Regions from separate parts of the Homo sapiens genome. Here region 2 is linked to region 1. Evidence: fine-mapped expression QTL. A gene starts in region 1. The other region holds a variant in brackets. All regions are shown on one strand. Distances are from middle to middle. Region 1 holds the start of SLC22A7 (solute carrier family 22 member 7). Region 2 overlaps ZNF318 (zinc finger protein 318).

Region 1 (2,909 bases):
AGGGATGTGACCCTCTTAGATTTGTGTTTAAATGTTCACTGTGGCCAGTGTATGGAGAATGGGTTGAAAGGGGTGAGACTGGAGACAGGGAGGGTTAGCTTATTTTAACCCTCCTGTAAGCTCCCTAAGGGTAGGGACCGTGTCTGAGGCATCTATGTACCCTCTAGAATGGCGAGGATGCACTAGAGACTCAAACATTTCTTCTCATTGTCACCCCCTGTCACTGCCACCACCATTAGCTGCCTCTTGCTTCACTCCATGGCTGTCAGCACCCCCATTAACACACGCCATGCCATCGATTTAGCTCCTTTCCCAGCGCTTTCTCAGGGATCCCAGCCTGGAGCAGACTGGGACATCACCAGCTCAGCAGCTTAGGTCAAAAGTGAGATTCCTGGTCTGGAGTCAGGGGACCTGGTCTTTTCTTCAGCTCTGCTGCTGAGTCATTGTGTGACCCCAGCAGGTCCCCTCCCTGTCTTTAGTTTTCTGACCTGTTCAAAGTAGGAGCTGGATTAAACCAGTGGGTCTGCCAGCTAAGTGTTTGGAGAATCAGATGAGAATAAACCAGACATTGCTGGTTTCTGCTGTACTTTTGCTGCAGGGACCATGATTGAGAATTGAGTGGGAGGGTCAGATTGAACATTTGAGTCTTAGGTATTGCATGTACCTTTGACAAGACCTTGGTAACTCCCCCTCCCCCATTCCCTACCCCTCCAAAAGGTAATCTTAGGCATTGCAGGTACCTTGGCAACATGTCCCCCGCCATTCCCTATCCCTCCAAAAGGTAATTTAGGAAGCTGCTGGAAATAGGGGAATGGGACAGGCAGTTGGAACCATATGTATGGGGAGAGTCCCTGAGTGAAGTGGGAATGGGATGAGCCTGGGATCCTCAGAGACATCAAGTTGCCCGGTGTGATCACAGGTGTGTCTTAGGCCAGGGCATCAGCTCCCAGCAGGGGAGAGGGATGCGAGGAGGCCTCATGGCTCAGCAGAAAGAAACCTGGTTAGGATCCAGCTTTCAGTCCTGAATCCTGGGCTGTCGGCCAGGCCATGGCTGTAGCTGCAAATAGGCAAGGCTGACCTAAGGTCTCACAGGACAAAGGGCACCCTGGGAGAGCTGGCCCCAGGCCCCAGGGGCCTCCTCTTCTTAGGGATCCTGGGAGCTCTGCTGACCAAGGGGCTAGGGGCTCACCTCCTATGCCATCACCCAGCTACCTCATCATGGTAGCCTTGGTCCCTGAACACTAATGGGTAAGCCCCAGAGCCACGAGCCAGTGACCTCTGAATGGATGGCTTCCCCTTCCCCCAGGCACCAGGCAAGACAGGTAGAGGTCCCTGGAGACCTGATGGCTGGGGAGGGCCCAGTCCTGGGCCAGCCCCTGAGGGCTGGATTCTGGCTGCAGGCTCTCCAGTCCATCCACTCCCACCTCCAGAGTCCAAGGGTCTATGTGGTGGGCAGTTTGAGCTGGCTGGATACTAGAGGGAGGCTGCACCTGAAGCATTTGGTGGGTGAGCAGCATGGGCTTTGAGGAGCTGCTGGAGCAGGTGGGCGGCTTTGGGCCCTTCCAACTGCGGAATGTGGCACTGCTGGCCCTGCCCCGAGTGCTGCTACCACTGCACTTCCTCCTGCCCATCTTCCTGGCTGCCGTGCCTGCCCACCGATGTGCCCTGCCGGGTGCCCCTGCCAACTTCAGCCATCAGGATGTGTGGCTGGAGGCCCATCTTCCCCGGGAGCCTGATGGCACGCTCAGCTCCTGCCTCCGCTTTGCCTATCCCCAGGCTCTCCCCAACACCACGTTGGGGGAAGAAAGGCAGAGCCGTGGGGAGCTGGAGGATGAACCTGCCACAGTGCCCTGCTCTCAGGGCTGGGAGTACGACCACTCAGAATTCTCCTCTACCATTGCAACTGAGGTACTTAAGCCCAGAAGTTGAGAGACATGTGAGAGGGATGGGCCTGCCATTGCCTTGGGTGGTTACTGTGTAGGCATTAGATGTATTACTTTACCTCTTAAAGTCTCAGTTTACCAATCTGTAGATGGGGGCTATGAATATAAGGCACTTTTAGTTCATGGCTTGTAGTAACAGGATCCTACACAAGAACTGTTATCATCATCATTAATTGGGAGGTGATTAAGGCAGGGAAGGGCTAAAGTGGCTTCAGGGAGTTGAGACAAAGAGCTGAGAAGGCAATTTCTGCAGCAAGAGGTGGAGAAACAATAGAGGCCTTCTTTTCTCCCTTCCTCTTTTCCAGTCCCAGGTCGGTATTTACATAATCCATCTGGAGGTGGAATGTCGGTGGAGGCAGTCTCCCTGGGAGGCAGCAGGTCGAGGCCTTCCTTGGGAAGAAGCTGAGGCTGCAGGACTGGGGAGGGACAAAGTTTCCTATTCCCCAAGCTGGCGTGAATCGTTGGGAGGTTTATTATCTGGCATGGAGGTACCAGAATGGCAGAGTTCGCCTCAGAAGGCTCCAGGGTCTGGAGAGGAGGAGCTGGTGCCTGCTGGAGAGGGGCTGATGTTCATAGGAGGTCCCTTTCTGCCTGTCCTTGCAGTGGGATCTGGTGTGTGAGCAGAAAGGTCTGAACAGAGCTGCGTCCACTTTCTTCTTCGCCGGTGTGCTGGTGGGGGCTGTGGCCTTTGGATATCTGTCCGACAGGTGGGGTGAGGCACTGGGCCAATAAGAAACTGGCTGGGGGAACTTTCTCCCACTAGCTGGGGTATGAGCCTAGTCTACCTATGCCTTAGAACCTCCTTCCACAGGGAACTGACCCTGCATGACCCCTTTGCAGGTTTGGGCGGCGGCGTCTGCTGCTGGTAGCCTACGTGAGTACCCTGGTGCTGGGCCTGGCATCTGCAGCCTCCGTCAGCTATGTAATGTTTGCCATCACCCGCACCCTTACTGGCTCAGCCCTGGC
Region 2 (2,909 bases), 67 kb after region 1:
ATGTTATATGACATAAGACTATTTTGCCTTGCTTCTTCTCTGAGAAAACACCAAATGGCAGATGATGTCGGTGGAGGGGGTGGGGCGGGGGCAGAGGCCCCGGGGGCCCTGGGATGGGAAACCGTGGTGGCTTCCATGGAGGGGCTGGGGTTGCAGCTGTGGACAGGGCTGAGGCCACGGAGCTCGTGGAGGCAAGGCCAAGGATAAGGAGTGGATGCCTGTCACCAAGCTGGGCTGCTTGGTTAAGGACATAAAGATCAAGTCCCTGGAGAACTACCTCTTCTTCCTGCCCATCAAGGAATCTGAGATCACTGACTTTTTCCTGGGGGCCTCTCTCAAGGATGAGGTGTTGAAGATTATGCCAGTGCAGAAGCAGACCCACACTGGCCAGTTGAAAAGGTTCAAGGCGTTTGTTGCCATCGGGGACTACAATGGCCACGTCGGTCTGGGTGTTAAGTGCTCCAAGGAGGTGGCCACTGCCACCTGCGGGGCCATCATCCTGGCCAAGCTCTCCATTCTCCCTGTGCACAGAGGCTACTGGGGGAACAAGATCCACAAGCCCCACACCGTTCCTTGCAAGGTGACAGGCTACTGCGGCTCTGTGCTGGTGCACCTCATCCCTGCGCCCAAGGGCACTGGCATCGTCTCAGCCCGTGCCCAAGAAGCTGCTCATGATGGCTGGTATTGATGACTGCTACACCTCAGCCAGGGGCTGCACTGCCACCCTGGGCAACTTCGCCAAGGCCACCTTTGATGCCATCTCTAAGACCTACAGCTACCTGACCCCCGACCTCTGGAAGGAGACAGGATTCACCAAGTCTCCCTATCAGGAATTCACTGACCACCTCATCAAGACACACACCAGAGTCTCTGTGCAGAGGACGTAGGCTCCAGCTGTGGCTACAACATAGGGTTTTTATACAAGAAATATAAAGTGAATTAAGCCTGAAAAAAAAAAAAAAAAAAGACTGTTCTGCCTTGCTTCACTGCATCCACAGCCAATGGAACTTTTAGGTATTACCAACGGCAAAACTGGTCCTCAGACTTCCTGCCCAGCTCTCCCCCACCCGCCTAGCTATGCTCTGTGCAACACGGCAAGCGACAGTCTCAGTTTGAAATTACATTACATTGATTTATTGCTACTGCTAATCATTTGTCAAAACTCCCAATGTGCTGGGCAGAGACCATAACAGTCATGGTCTCAGCTCTGAGAAAGAGTGCTTTCCTGAACTCCCATCCATACTTTGACTTTTGTGAGGTGAAAAACACCTAATGTGATTATTTACAATCTATATATGGTTAAGTTCCTAGTACCTGAGGTCTATATCCAACTCTCTTGAGTGTATCTACCCTTCCTCAGCACTCAATAGTTGTAAAATAATAACTGAACTTAAACATTTTTGAAGGTCTCTAGCTTTCTATTAATACTTTATCTACTTCACATACACACATATATTAGACATGAACTTACCTAACCCTTTCTGAATCTGTTTCAGCCTGGATAAACTAAAAAATAACACCATTTTAAAAAGACTTCCCATTTTGTCCAGAACTTTTCTTTGGAGAAGGGACTGCTCATAGTTTCACTGTTTTAGAATCTATACCATCTCAACTGTTCTTCATTTGGGGGACTCTGATTATGTCCCCTCAGCCTCTTCTTTCTAGTCAGACTCAGATGACCTTTTTAAAGTCTTTTTTTCTATACAATTTATTCAACAACAGAGTCTACACATCATTATACTCCTCCCACTTAGAAATTCTATCCCAGCGTTTTATTTTGTAC[T/G]GGACATGTGGCATAGGAAATAACTTTAGAGCTGGCACCATCCTTTCAAATATATCATTCGGAAAACAGCAACATTTCTGCCTTCAAGTACTAGTATAGTAGGCCCTGCCTTAGGTGATGCCTACCTGTCCATGTCTTCCAGATTATCCACTGGTGACCCCAGCCGATCACTAAGCCGTCGCCGTTCTGGTGTGCTAACACAGAAGTGGTCATTGCCAACAGTGATCCTTAAGCTCTTTTCCAAAGAGTCAGAACACAGACCAGGAGAGCGTCTCTACAAAAGTAAAGGATAATATGGTTAGTCAATAGGGTCAAGACATCCCTACATCCAAAAACTCTCCTCCCTAGTTACAAAGTTAGCCAGGCATGGTGGCTCATGCCTGTATACCCAACACTTTGGGAGGCTGAGGTGTATAGGCCCAGGCAAGAATGTGAGACCAGTCTGGGCAACACAGACTCCATCTCTATAAAAAAAAGTTTAAAATTAGCCAGGTGTGGTCCCAACTACTCAGGTGGCTGAGGTGGGAGGATAGCTTAAGCTTGGGAGGTCAGGGCTGCAGTGAGCCATGACTGCACCACAGCACTTCAGCCTGGGCAATGAGCAGGACCTTGTCTCAAAAACAAAAGACAACCCTGCAAAGTTGGGGTTCAACAAGGTGAGAAATGGTTATGGTAAGACACTATACCAAAAATAAAGCACTTTTTAAAAATTATCATTTTCTTAGAGATATAAGCCCATACCTCTAACTCTCCTAAACGGTGACCTCTCATTCTTACTGGGCATGGGAAAAGAGAAGTGAATAAAGTCCCTGCTCTCAGAACCCTACTTCTAGTGTACATACTTCTAGTGAAGGAGGTAAGCCAAAAACAAGTTTAAAGAAAAAAAAAATTCTTCTGGTAAGTGCTATAGTCATTAAAACATGGTACCATAAAAGGAGTTACTTCAGATAGGATGGTTAGAAAAGGTTTTTCTCAGGTGATAACCTGAGGCCTGAAGAATGAGGTGTCAGCTTTGCAAAGAACAGGTAGAAAGATGTTTCAGGCAAAGAAAAGAACCACCTCAGTATAGAGCTTGGTATACTTTAAGTAACAGAAAAGCGGCCGGTGTGGCTGCAGCAAAGTGACA

What was found. PIP is the estimated chance that this variant, and not a neighbour inherited with it, causes the effect.
Region 2: its variant is the best candidate, but not a certain one, in a credible set for the expression of SLC22A7 in testis (GTEx, PIP 0.82).

Annotation. Positions count from the first base shown.
Region 1 is chr6:43,296,844-43,299,752 of GRCh38, forward strand. SLC22A7 (solute carrier family 22 member 7) reads left to right here and starts at 1,417. Exons shown (of 11, transcript NM_153320.2): 1 at 1,417-1,908; 2 at 2,249-2,254; 3 at 2,547-2,650; 4 at 2,784-2,909. The coding sequence starts at 1,516. It overlaps LOC124901319 (a long non-coding RNA gene), which reads right to left. Exons shown (of 2, transcript XR_007059582.1): 2 at 2,099-2,909.
Region 2 is chr6:43,363,384-43,366,292 of GRCh38, forward strand. ZNF318 (zinc finger protein 318) reads right to left here. Exons shown (of 10, transcript NM_014345.3): 2 at 1,909-2,057. It also overlaps the pseudogene RPS2P28. Among named protein-coding and RNA genes, the nearest start is that of ZNF318, 4.8 kb to the right of the region's middle. The variant T/G (reference allele first, on the strand shown) is at 1,784.